Linked DNA regions of Homo sapiens. The protein of the gene in region 2 interacts with the protein of the main gene of each other region in a biochemical or structural test. Each region holds a gene or a part of one and is shown on either strand. Other genes may lie near its edges.

The links. Proteins that work in one complex are often made in the same cells at the same time.
Region 1: the proteins of LRP1 (region 2) and PLAT form a complex in vitro, tested with the Homo sapiens proteins (2 studies listed by BioGRID).

Annotation. Positions count from the first base shown.
Region 1 is NC_000008.11:42,197,550-42,204,572, reverse strand, and holds part of PLAT (tissue-type plasminogen activator isoform 1 preproprotein), read left to right. Parts: intron 1-7,023. UniProt on the Homo sapiens protein: Converts the abundant, but inactive, zymogen plasminogen to plasmin by hydrolyzing a single Arg-Val bond in plasminogen.
Region 2 is NC_000012.12:57,131,482-57,138,504, forward strand, and holds part of LRP1 (prolow-density lipoprotein receptor-related protein 1 preproprotein), read left to right. Parts: intron 1-6,977; coding exon 6,978-7,023. UniProt on the Homo sapiens protein: Endocytic receptor involved in endocytosis and in phagocytosis of apoptotic cells. Required for early embryonic development. Involved in cellular lipid homeostasis.

The sequences.
Region 1 (7,023 bases), on a different chromosome or scaffold from region 2:
CAGCTAAGTTTTCACCATGTTGGCCAGGCTGGTCTTGAACACCTGACCTCAAGTGATCTGCCCGCCTTGGCCTCGCAAAGTATTGGGATTACAGGCGTGAGCCACCATGCCCAGACAGGTTTTTCTTTGATTATTTGGCATTATGCACCTGCAGTCTCAGAATAAATTTTTTACTTTCTCTGAGTGATTTTCGCTTCTGCTTTGATGAGATTGTTGGGACGGACAATAAGGGACCAGTGCATTCTGCTCATTCCTTCTTGGGGCCATTTCTTTTGTATATACGGGAGAAAATGTCTGTCTATAGTGTCAGGCTATAAACCTCGTCCTAGTCAAGCAGCTCACAAAACCATATGGTGGGTCTCACATCAAACCAGGTAAAAGAGTGAGGATGATTTAGACTCAAAGAAAATTAGAGCTAGAAATAAATTTAAAGCTCATCCACCCTGCTCCAACCCTAAGTCAAGCCACATGGTCTTCCGATAGTGGCTCAGTTTTCTACTTACATAAAAAGACAGCACATTCTCTTAGCAATATGTGTTTGTATGTGTGTGTGTGTGTGTGTGTGTGTGTGTGTGTGTGTATATATATATATATATATATATAATTTAGAGACAAGGTCTGACTCCATCACCCAGGCTGGAGTGCAGCAGTGTGATCGTAGGTCACTGAACCTTCAAACTCCTGGGCTCAAGTGATCCTCCATCTCAGCCTCCCAAGTAGCTAGGACTACAGGGGCATGCTGCCATATCCAGCTAATTATAAAATTTTTTTGTAGAAGCAGAGTTTTGCTTTGTTGCCCAGGCTAGTCTCAAACTCCTGGCCTCAAGCAACCCTCTTGCCATGGCCTCACAAAATGCTGGGATTACAGGCAAGAGCCACTGTGCCCAGTCCCTCTTAGTGATATTTTGCATATTATATATTCAAAAAATATTTTCTATGTATGCCACTTGGGAAACTTCTGTAGAATGGGATAGAGGGACAGATAAACCCAATTCTTGATCCACTCAAAAATAACACCTGTGACAGAGTGAAGATGAAACAGGTGCTGGGCACACAGCAAGTGTTTTAGAAACATTTTTGAACTCAACTTTGCCTGAGTTGTGGTGCTGATCATGGCTGCCAGGAAATGCTAGCCAGCTGTTCTTCCTATACAAGTATATGACTGGGTGTCTGCAGCAGCTGCCCGGCTGTGAATTGCACACACCAATGGCCAAGACCCAGCAGCGACTTGGCTAACAGGCCCAGCCGATGTGCATGGGTGACCACGCGATGCTCCTGACACACGCACTGGTGGCTTAGGGAAGTTTTTTTGAGGATTGATCAGAAGATCTGATTCCACCTGGAGCCTCTGAAGTGATCACTTCCAGGTTAGGCTGAACCCAGATACCAGGAGACCTGTGTATTGAGAGCCTTTTGTTTTTTTTATGTAGTCACAACTATTCCATTAACATACAGCTAGGCATTAGAGAATCCATGCTGGACTCCTACAAAGGCCCCTAGATCCTTAGAACACTCAGAGATTCCAAAGCACACGTCCTCCCAGGACACCCTGGCAGAAGAGCCCGGGGGCGACTGTCACCTTTGCCTGCTGTCGGGAGCTGTGCTGATGGGTAGGGGGCTCTGTGCTTGCTGTGGCCCAGAGCCAAGCCGTGGGGATGTGCTCTGTCTGGAGCAGACCCCTTCACTGTCTGCCTAACTCCTTCGTGTGTTCCCGGAACAGCTTCTGTGTTATGCATTCCAGAAAGCCTGCCTGACCACCCCAACCTCAACAAGCCTGGGATGGACAACCTCCTCCACATTCCACTCCAAGCCCACCCCCGTCCCCACCCTGCTGCGTGGTATGGCGCTGCTCTGCTGTACCCTGAGTGTCTAGTTATTCATCAGGCCCCTTCCTAACTATGAGCTCTTTCAGGATAAGAGCTGTGTCTTTGCATCACCAGAGCCTGTGCCAGGGCACGGCTGGTGCTCCATACACGTTGATGGTGAATATATAGCATGGGTAGATCATTGTCTGTGAATGCTTAACAGAGAAGCAGCTCATGTGGGTGCTTGAGGGCTGGGGGGGCAGGGTGGGGGTCTGGTAGGCGCTGGGAGGAGGACATCCCTGCAGCTTCTCCAGCCCCATAGATGGGACTCTTGATGTGGGCAGTTTTTATTTCAGCTGAGTCTCCAGAAGGCAGGGGACAGGGACTGGGAGGGGATGCTAAACCCGATAACCCAGTATGGATGAGCTAACAGAGGCCGGGCACACAGCTCCTGCCTGTAATCCCAGCACTTTGGGAGCCCGAGGTGGGCGGGTTGCTTGAGCCAAGGAGTTTGAAACCAGCCCGGGTCTTGAACATAGCGAAGACTCTGTCTCTACAAAAAAATGAAAAAAAAAAAAAAATTAGCCAGACATGGTGGCACGCACCTGTAGTCCCAGCTACTTGAGAAGCTGAGGTGAGAGGATCACTTGAGCCAGGGAGGTTGAAACTGCAGTGAGCTGTGATCACGCCACTGCACTCCAGTCTGGGTGACTGGGCGAGACCCTGTCTCAAAACAAATAAATAAGAAAGAGAGACTACTGGTCAACTTGATTTCTGCTGGTTATTCTCTTTCTGTCATGTTCACCAAAAAGAGAAACCCGTTGTATTTTATCTTGTTGTAGCAAGAGCCGGTGTCTAACACCTGGGCTACTGAGAGAAAGCGAAGGGTTTTTTTCTGGGAAGCTCCAATTTCCTTATTTCTCTCACATGATGCCTCTGACTTTCATAGTGTGGCTTGGTCAGATGGGCCTTATCAATAGAGATGGCCTGATGTCTCAGCTGTGTCATCTCAGCTGCTAGTTCTGGCTTCTGCTGGGAGTCCACAGTGGCCTCTGCATGCATGGTGTGGGAAAGGCAAATAAAAAAGCAGATTAAAAACCAGATTAAAGACATCACCCTGTATTCAGGAAATAATGGCTCCTGTTGATACTGTTCTACGAACACAGATGAAGGCACAAAATTCTACATCAATTGCAGAGAATTGGTTATAGGCTAACACAGGTGGTCGGATGATCTAGGAAGCAGGATTCAGTATTAACGGGGATCCATGAGGACCCCATGAAGCGTGGCATCTCTTCTGCATCAGCAGCTTCAAGTTGTTCCAGGGAGAAGCGGGAAGCCTCAGTGCTTTTGTTGAGGAAGGATGTTCATGACAGTAGGTGCAGGTCGCTCCTGCCGTGCACCCAGGTGTGGGGGAAGGACTTTCCTGCTTCTTTTCCAGTTACCTTACAATTCAGCAAGACGGAAATGATTAGCCCATGACAAAAACCAGGAAACAGGCTCAGAGAGAGTGAGTTGCCCACACAGAATGTGTGCTGTAAATGCAGTTAGATTTCCAGGTTGAGAATCCAGTGACCACGCCCCTTCTTTGTGGCATTCTGCTGTCGTATACCATGTGGAACACATTAAGAACGTTATGGCCAGGCGTGTTGGCTCACGCCTGTAATCCTAGCACTTTGGGAGGCCAAGGTGGACAGATCACCTGAGGTTGGGAGTTCGAGACCAGCCTGGCCAGCATGCCGAAACCCTGTCTCTACTAAAAATACAAAAATTAGCCAGGCATGGTGGCACACACTTGTAATCCGAGCTACTCGGGAGGCTGAAGAAGGAGAATCGCTTAAACCCAGGAGGCGGAGGTTGCAGTGAGCTGAGATTGCACCGTTGCAATCCAGCCTGGGCAACAGAGTGAAACTCCATCTCAGAAAAAAAAAAAAAGTTACAATTGGGTGTCACATAGACAGTGAGGAGTAGTGGAAAGAGTGTTAGATTTGGGGTAAGAGAACTGTGTCTCCTGGGCTTGAGTCCTGATGCCAACTCTCACAAGATGTGTCACCGTACAGCACGACGCTTATACTTTTTTTTTTTTTTTTTTTGAGACAGGATCTTGCTCTGTCTCAAGCTGGAGTGCAGTGGTATGATCACAGCTCACTGCAGCCTCAAACTCCCAGGCTCAGGCCATCCTCCCACCTCAGCCTCCCAAGTAGCTGGGACTACAGGCATGTACCACCATGCCCAAATAATTTTTTGTATTTTTTTGTTGAGATGGGGTTTTGCCATGTTACCCAGGGAGGTCTCAAACTCCAAGGATCAAGCCACCCACCCTCCTTGGCCTCCCAAAGTGTTGGGATTACAGATGTGAGCCACCACACCTTGCAAATTTTTGTATTTTTTGTACAGCCGAGGGTCTCCCTATGTTGCCGAGGGTGATCTTGAACTCCTGGGCTCAAATGATCCACCCTCCTCAGCCTCCCAAAGTGTTGGGATTACAGACGTGAGCCACTGCTCTCAGCCCCTTACACTTTTTTGAAGTTCAGTTCTCCCATCTGTAAAAACGAGGTAATAATATTGCCTCAAATGACTTAATGGATGTGAAAGGGTTTAGTAAACTCTGTGCCTGGAAAGGTAGAAGCTACTCAAATATCTGTTGAGTGAGTGGCATTCATCCATGTGTACATTTCTCAGGCAACAATAATGTCACTTTCACCTAAGGCCAGTAAAATGTGGGTAAAGTCATATAATGATACAATGAAAGTTTCTGATCAGTATTTCCTAATTCAAGTGTGTTGAAATGTGGAGTTGGGCTGGAGAATTGTCAAATCATTGCGTATTTAATTACCTTGTGGTGATGTTTGCTTTAGGGAGTGGAAGGAACATGAGGAACGAACGACCTTCATCACGGAAGATGACATTCATTTCGATTCACTTTAGATTTCAGGGCTTGTTTAGATGCAGACTTTGCAGTTAACATTTTATTGCACTGACTGATTTAGTTTTCACCAGGTGGTCCTTGTGTTTGCTTCAGAAGGATCTAAGTGTATTAGGACAGGGTTTCTTCTGTTTTGATTGTGGGAGGAGGCGGGATAGACTTCTGTTTTCCTAGACCCACAACCAAAATTCCCCACTCCTCCAAATAACCGGGATTACCAGGCAGAGGGTGGAGCATTGAGGAGATGACAGCTGGACATGCCTGCTGTAGCTTTTTCTGAGTTTAATTCCATATAGCTTAGACACAGGCCATATGCCTACATTTGGAAGATGTTTTGGAGAAAATTCTGCTCTGATGGGTGGGGGGCAGGGTCTGCCAGGAAAATATTCTATTCTTTTGAAGACATGGGGTCTTGCTATGTTGCCTAGGCTGGTCTTGAACTCCTCGCCTCAAGTGATGCTCCTGCCTCAGCCTCCTGAGTAGCTAGGACTACAGGTGCAAACCACCACACCCAGCTCTGAGAGGATGCTATACTCTTCACTTCATTGGAATTGGTGAAATTAGATAAGAAACAGACTCTTCCTCTCTTCTCCCCTAGTTATAAACAGTTCTGTTAAGAGAGGGAAAATAACCATTTAGCCTATAGAAAATCACCTTTTCGAAAAGTTAAGAATTACTTATGTGATGGTAGTTTTTGAAAGTGGTTTTTATTCTGAGATCATGGCCTCTGTACTATGCAGGGCCTGGAGAAGTGGGATGAGAGCTACCAGGCTCAAAGCTCCTGTCCCGAACAAAGGGTTGCTTTCGTGGGAGCACGCCACCCTTTCCAAGGCTAGTTCCTCTCCCAGCATCTCACTTCAGCTCTCGTCCTGCTCTAGAAACGTGCCTTTGCTGGTCCAAGGAATCCTGGCCGTTTCTTTTCTTAATTGTTGGCATTCATCTGGGCTATGGTGGTTGTGGCGGGGGTGGCAGTGGAGAGTGTGTTGTTTTAAATCCATGAGTCATTTTAGGGTATTGGTACTCTTGAAGACTGACTTTCTCTTGCTCAGGTTTTCAGAGAGACCTTTTGCTAAGCAACAATAACCTAAGAATCTCCTTGACCAAAGATAAATGTAGCAAACTTTGCACATGGTGCAACATTTGATAATAGTATCAATTTACGTTTGTCTTTCCCTTGCAATTTCCCTCCTCCTCTAGCTTGCTCACGTTTCTGCCTTCTTCTTGCTGGCAAGAGTACAGACTATAATTCTCCAGTTCACTAACATCTGGAGCGACTGCACTGTTTGCAATTTCATTGATTGACTACATGTGTACAGTTCCTTTATTGCAAGTCACTTTTCTGTATAATCTTTTTTGAGACGAAGTCCTGCTCTGTCGCCCAGGCTGCAGTAGCGCAATCTTGGCTCACTGCAACTTCCGCCTCCCGGGTTCAAGCGATTCTCCTGCCTCAGCCTCCTGAGTAGCTGGGATTATAGGCGCCCGCCACCATGCCCAGCTAATTTTTTTGTATTTTTAGTAGAGATGGGGTTTCACTATGTTGGCCAGGCTTGTTTTGAACTCCTGACCTCAAGAGATCTGCCAGCCTTGGCCTCCCAAAGTGCTGGGATTACAGGTGTGAGCCACTGTGCCTGGCCATATAATCTATTTTTAAAATGTTTTTATATGAAAATAAACAGAGACAGAGTCTCACTGTGTTGCCCAGGCTGATCTCGAACTCCTGGGTTCAAGTGATCCTCCCACCCTGGCCTCCCAAAGTGCTGGGGTTACAGGCGTGAACCACCTCATGTGGCCTCGCTTTCCTATATAATTTAAACAATAGAACTATAGTGCCATTTGTAAGAGTTTCCCAGTTTATACTGCATGTGACACTCCCCATGTCGTATGTTCTCACAACAGAACAGAAACCGCAGGATGTCAGCACCGGAGGCAACCTTGGAGCATCCAGCCCACTTGGTTTTGCATTGCTGGCAGGAGATTTTATGCCTCAAAATATAGATGCTTTTTGGAAGGACAGCACATTAATTATTTTTCAGTCATTTTTACCTTATGCGAACAAGCTGATTAGTTCCTTTCCTAGGAGCTGGTTTTTATGGAGGGAAGATGGGGCCGGTAGAGGCAGATAGAGGGGGATGTAATACACAGGCACTGAGACAGCACCCCACTGACTTTCCCCTGTCCCTCCTCCAGCTGGCCTCCTCCTTTCCAGGGGCTGTGCCCAATCCAGAATCAGTTACTCACTGGTGCCCATCGACCATCATTTCCCCATGTGGCCACCAAAGAAATGAACACCAC
Region 2 (7,023 bases):
CCTCCACACACCCCCTTGAGCCGGCATATTACCAGTTACTAGAGTAGGTACAGTGGAAGTGAGTTATGAAGCTGGGGTGTTAGCTTCCTGGATCCCTGAGAGAAAGTTCTAAACTCCTTTCTCCCTGATCAGACTCACATCCTAAACGTCTCCCTTTGCCTCGTTGTCTTTTAAAGCAAGAATGTGTAAGAAATTCATTTTGGGGTTGGAGGGATATTTTGATGTTTAGGGCTGCTTCACTAGACATCTTTTTCTTCTGATCTTGTTCTCTCTCCTCTCTTCATTTTCTCAACCACCCTTCCACCACTGAGCCTCCCAAAGGATGACAGCCCAGGTCCTGGCCAGAGTCAGTTCCTGTCCAGATGCCCCCATTCTTCAAAACCCCTTCCTTACCTTTTGGGAAGCCCTTCCTTACTCAAGTCTATCTCTCTTTCCTCCTGCTGCAGTGTGAGCCCTTGCACATCAGAACCCCCAAGCCTAGGTTTATTCCCGCCCAGTACTCTCTTCTCAGGGTCCTCCTCACTCCTCAGACTCTTTACCTTTCAGGTCCTCCAGCTCTGCGTGTGGGCTCATTGCTCTTGGGGCATCTGGGTGCAGCTGAATGGTACTGCAGGAAGGCCCCTGACTTGGTAGTGCTGGGTATGAGCGATAGAGAACCTGCCTCCCTCTTCTGTCCCAGATTTCAGCCTGGTTAGCAGGATCCTGCATTGTTTGGAGAAGGAAGCAGTTGGCTTTGGAGTGTTTCCGGTGCAATGGCCTCAGGCACCAATATAAACCCTCCCTGGGAAAGAGGTGAGGGGTATATGTGGAGAGTTGTCCCTCTTGCTCCCCTAGGGGAGATGAAAGCCTCTCCCTCTCCCACCAGGCCTTAGCTTCCCTGGCTGAAGAGCTCCATTTTCCTCCCTCCTTTCTACCCTCCTGACTCCAGGGGTGGTAGTGGTCCCTATTCTGGGTCTCCCTTGAGTCAGGCACTGCCTAGGGCCGAGACTCTGTCTCTCCAAGATAGGACAGATCTTGCTCCCACCCTACTCTAGGCTCAGCGGGGTAGTCATTCTCTGGGTTCATCCCAGGACAACTGTGTCATCCCCTTGGCAATCTCTGGACTGAGCCCCCTTCCTGGCTTTTCTGGCTGTCTGTCTGTCTTTCTGTCTGTCTGTCATTAGTGTGCGCTGTCTTGGCTTTTTAGAACCTCTCTGTCTCTCACCCTCTCAGTTCATCTCTTACTGCCGAACCTTTGTGACATTCTCTGCCCTGCTTTCTGCGTCTCTGTCACTTGTCTTATTTTTCTCTGCCTGTCTCCATTTACCCCCATCCAGGCCTCTTGGTATCCCAAAAGCTTCTTGGGAGCAAGAGTCTCTCTGGGCTTTCCCACTCACCCCCTGGCTCCCTCCCCTCTGTTTTGGCTATTTTTCCCCCTTCCTGGCCAGACCCAGTGTCCAGTTCAGCACCAAAAGTTTCCTCTCCACTTTCCTCCGACTTCCTCTTTCTTCTTCCCCCTCCACTAATTTGGGGAATGGGTTTTGGAGAGAATGTTTCTGGAAGAAAGGAACTTGATACCCTTTGTGGGCTAAGAGGGAGAAAGGAGGTATTTCAGAAGGAAGGAGGGAGGTTAGACTTCTGGCAGAACTTCCTCCTGACCAGGAGCCTAAGAACTGGAGAAAGATGTAAGGAGTGAGTCAAGAACTTGGAGCTTTTACTCTGGTGAGCATAAGCTGTGTGTGTGGCTGGGGTGGGGGGAGAAGGAGAGGAGGCTTAGAAATGCCTGGTGAGTGATATGGTGACCTCTGGAGGCCTTCTGGGGGTCTGGCTTTTATTTGTGGGGAAAGGAAAAGCTGGTGGGGGAGGTCACGGGTCAGGCTAATGTCCTGCTGCATCAATATTGACTCAGAATGGAAGCGGAGACCCTTCCCCTCCCCTGGCTGTCCAAGCCACCCTGTCTGTCTGTCTGTCCAGGCCGCAAAGCAGAGGCCCAGACTCAGGAATGACAAAAATGTGTCTGAGCCTCAGGAAAGAGCCACTGGGCAACACCCAAAATACAAAAAATTCAGTGAAAACCTCTCGGTTTGGGTTTGGGAGGCCCTTGCTGCCCCACCCCCATAAGGTCGAAAATTCAGATTCCTGCAGGCTCTGTCCCCGCGCCGCCCCCCCACCCCACCCCCCGCACCTTGAGCATCCTCCTCCCACTCTGTTCCCTTAGCTATATCATGTGGTTCCCTTTAGAGAACCCCCCTCTCACCTAGCTCAGAGGGGAGCCTATCTCTCCTTCTGCTGTGTCCACTCTTAAAAAGGGCCCCAAGAGTCCCTGTCATGCTTTTGCAGTCCCTGAGTCTCCTTGTCCTTTAAGAAGCACCTCTAAGGTCTTAGCTCTCTTCCTTGCTCTCGCTCCCTCAAGGGGGTATCAAAGGATGGGTTCCCCTCCTCTGGAGAAGACTCCTTCAGGGTTGGACTTCGCTGTCACCCTCTCTGGCCAGGCATTCTCACCCCACTTCCCCACCCCCAAGGTCCCAGAATGGGACACAGAATGACAGCCAAGGGTCAAGCAGGGCAGTGGGGTCTGTGTTGTGTCTGGACGCACACCCAACTCTACACCTCCTGCCCTGGCTCCAGCTTGGTGGCCCTGGGGACCGTGGCTGGGCTGGGTGCCTGGGTTTGGGGGGGTGGGGCAGGGTGTTGGCCAAGTTAGCATGGCAGTCACATTCATCTTCAGGCAAAGCCGAGAACAGACGGCCCCTGTGTCCTGGTGTTCTTCCTCCAAACTCGCTCTCTCTCCTTCCTCTCTAGATCTCTCCTTCTTCTTCTCCTGCCTGTCTTCCCCTTCTTCTGTCCCATTCTTGCTCCTCTCTGTCTCCCCTATGCCCTTCCCTCCTCTCTGAGGAGCCCTGAAGGCCACCCCTTAAAATCCTCTCCCCACTGCCAGGGCCAGAGAACGACAGCGTTCTCCCTGCAATTTCCCTTCCTTGTTTTTTGTTTTTGTTTTGTTTTGTTTTTGAGACACAGTCTCACTCCATCACCCAGACTGAAATGCAATGGCGTGATCTCTGCTCACTGCGACCTCCGCCTCCTGCTAATTTTTGTATTTTTAGTAGAGACAGGGTTTCACCATGTTGCCCAGGCTGGTCTCAAACTCTTGACCTCAAGTGATCCGCCCATCTCCGCCTCCACCTCCCAAAGTGCTGGTACTACAGACGGGAGCCACTGCGCCCATCTGGTTTCCTTTCTTTCTTTCTTTTTTTTTTCTTTTGAGATGGAATCTCGCTCTGTTGCCCAGGCTGGAGTGCAGTGGCGCGATCTCAGTTCACTGCAAGCTCCGCCTCCCCTGGTTCACGCCATTCTCCTGCCTCAGCCTCCTGAGTAGCTGGGACTACAGGCGCCTGCCACCACGCCCAGCTAATTTTTCATATTTTTAGTAGAGACGGGGTTTCACCGCGTTAGCCAGGATGGTCTCGATCTCCTGACATCATGATCTGCCTGCTTCGGCCTCCCAAAGTACTGGGATTACAGGCATGAGCCACCATGCCCGGCCTGGTTTCCTTTCTTAACCCGGCTGCATCCCATGACCTATGAGGAAACCACCTGCTCAGTTACCAGTCACCCTGTGCCTCAGCTCCCCCATGTGTGAGAGGGGGGCCGCAAGGGCACCCACCTCACAGGGTTATAGTATCTAAGTGAGTTAATAGTCACCGTATTTCCAATCAGTGGCTGGTGGTTAGCAAGGTGAAAAAGGTTAGCTCCCATCGGTCAGGGAGACCTCCGGGTTCTCTCATGCGGGCCAGGAGGCGGGGAAGGCCTTAGTTGCTTTTGACCTTAGGGCAATGTTGTTCTCTCATCTAAACTGCAGGCCACAAAGGTGGGTTTTCTGGGTGCTGGATTCAGACACAGAAGGCTCTGCTGAGGGGAGTGGGGTTGGCTTTCCCTCTAAGCAGATTATAAGGGTCCTACCCCGCTCCCAACTCAGCTCTCTCCCAGCTCTGAGTGAGGCTTCCCTTGGCTGTGTAGACTGTCCCAAAGTAGTTTATTTGTTTCTTTCTTCCCTCTCCCCCTGAAGGAAATCAAAGACAGGCCTCAGCCTTCTCGCTCCAGATTCCTGGGCCCTTCAACACCAGCCCTGACAGGAAGTTCTTTCACGTATCTCTCTGCAATCCTTGTGCTGGCCAGGCCCTCGGGAGATGTGGCCCCCTCCCCCGGTGCTGCTGTGGGATAGGGGCCTGGGCCCTCCTCTTCCTTTCACTTGTCCCATCCCCCATCCCCTCCCTGCAAGAGCACATCTGGTTTGTGAATCTCTCTCATTCCAGCTTTTGGAGTTTGCCAGCTGCTGTTTCCTCTGTGGAGTTCAGGCCAAAAATGGGGGTGGGGGACAGCGGGGGGGACTCAGTGAGGGCTAAAGGAGGGGGCACCATGGCTGGGATGTGGAATGGAGGGGAGGTTAGGTGACCACCCGGTGACCTCAGGCCGTGGCTGTGCGCTCTGCCCCTGGGAGGAGCAGGGCATGGACCAAGTCCCAGGTGGGTGGCACGGGGGTCTGTTTCTGGGCTCCAAACATCTCATCTGCCTCTGAGTCCCATTCCAGCCCCCCTCTTCCCCCTCAGCCGGCCACGGCTGGTCAGGGGAAGCGGACGGTTCTCCGGCATGCTAACTAGGCTGGCGGGCTGTGTTTCCCGGGAAGACCTCACAGCTGGCCCAGTGGGGCAATGAACTCAGCATTATCCACCTCCTCAAGGGGCCTTTATTCCAGGCTCAGGGTGGGGGCCAGGGGAGGGAGGCTGAAGGGGGAGCCTGGCTAGGCCATCCTTGATGTGTTTCCTGAACTCGGTCATTTTGGCCAGGGGCCTGAGTGCCGTCTCCCCTGCCAGCGGTGGGGGTTAGGAGGGAAGACATCTCAGTGAGGCTCCCATCAGACTCCCTCCCTCCTAAGAGCCCCCCCCCCCCGCCATTTTCCTTATACTTCTGTCTCTGCCCTGCATTTGCATTAGTTGGGTACAGCTGTCTTCTCAGGCGACTCTGGCTCCTGCAGGGCAGAGGGTCATCTCACCCTCCTTGGCACCCTGATGCCTAGTGCAGTGCCTGGCATAGAGCTGGCCTTCAGTGTGTGCCAGCAGAATAGAAATGTGATGGCACAGTCTGAGGAAAAGCCACGAAAGGCCAGGAGACTGGGAGCTCAGCCTTGGGTGGGGGAGAAGGGGTGGGTGACTGTTCCTCCTGTGGAGGATGTGGTGATAGAGGTTGGGAGGAGTGGGAATTCGGAGGACTGGTGTGGATTTCACTGGTTCAGAGCTTGGAGTCAGCTTAGCTGGTTTTGTCACTTGCCAGCTATTTGACCCTGGCCAAGTCACCTGGCTCAATTTCTTCATCTGTGAAATGGTGGTATTAGTTGTCCCTATTTGTCATACTGTGGAGGGAATTAAATATGATGATACATGGAAAAAACTGCTTTACCACAGTTCCTGGCACATACTGAGCCCACAATAAGAGTTAGTTGTCAGCCGGGTGCGGTGGCTCACGCCTGTAATCCCAGCACTTTGGGAGGCTGAGATGGATGTATCAGATGAGGTTGGGAGTTCGAGACCAGCCTGACCAACATGGAGAAACCCCGTCTCTACTAAAAATACAAAATTAGCCATGCGTGGTGGCGCATGCCTGTAATCCCAGCTACTCTGGAGGCTGAGGCAGAAGAATCACTTGAACCCGGGAGGCAGGGGTTGCAGTGAGCCAAGATCGTGCCATTGCACTCCAGCCTGGGCAACAAGAGCAAAACTCTGTCTCAAAAAAAAAAAAAAAACAACAGAGTTAGTTGTCACCATTCTTAATTCCTCCTTGGGGGATGAGGGAAGAGAATGGGGTAGGAGTGGAAGAAGCCTGATTGGGGTGGGAGGGTAGGGCCAAGAGGTCCTGAATATAGTAGCTAACTAGTTGGACTGGACTGAAACCAGTTCCTAGAGTTCATTTCAGCCATCCCCCTGCCTCTGCTCCCCAATTCTGATATCTTGAAAATCTTTAGGTGCTTCTTAACTCTAAGGATGTCTACTGAAAGTCTCCCTGAGGTCTAACCAAGGGAGGCTGTGTCTTTAGAGAATGGAGAGGACAAGGCAGGTGGATCACCTGAGGTCAGGAGTTTGAGACCAGCATGGCCAACATGGTGAAACCCCGTCTCTACTAAAAATACAAAAACTAGCTGGACATGGTGATGCATGTCTGTAGTTCCAGCCACTGGGGAGGCCGAGGCAGGAGAATCGCCTGGGCCCAGGAGGTGGAGGTTGCGGTGAGCTGAGATTGTGCCACTGCACTCCAGCCTGGGGGACAGAGTGAGACCTTGTCTCAAAAAAAAAAAAAATAGGGAATGGAAATGGAAGCAAGGCTCTCTACCCTGCCCATTCCTGCCCAGCCTTGCCCTCCTGTGCCTCTGCTAATACCATCTCCAACTACTACTGTGTGTGCCAAGGGCATCCCTCCCCACTGCTCCCATCTGGGGGCCTAGTGATTAGGGGTTGGGAAGGATGGGGTGATGGGTCAGGGGACCAGGAGTGTCCCAGAAGGCAGGGAAGCAGAGAGGTTAGATAAGACCAGCTCGGGGCCTCTAGTAGTAGGAGTTAGAGGAAGACAAAGAGAAAACATGTCAAGGCCTAAATGCACCCCCCTTCACCATCACTCTGTCATCAAAGCCAGGGGGTGCTGGTGTCTGATGAGAGTAACCAAGAATAGCAAAGGCTTTGACCCTGACTCCCAGGAACAGGCAGCCTAGAGGACTTGGAGGGGTGCAGTAAAATGTGCTTCTGGATCCTCCCCACCCCCACCGCAGATACACAGTGTCTAGGAACTACCCAAAGCCACCCCCTGACACCCCCAGGCACATAGACCATGGCTGAGGGTCTGGGCCAGATGGAGACTGATGCTAGGGAAGGAAGAGCAGTACTAGGGGACTTTGGGTTCACAGAGTTGGCCTCCATCCTTCATTTATATCCCCTTTTCTTTCCTTGCCCTAGCCCCTAAGACTTGCAGCCCCAAGCAGTTTGCCTGCAGAGATCAAAT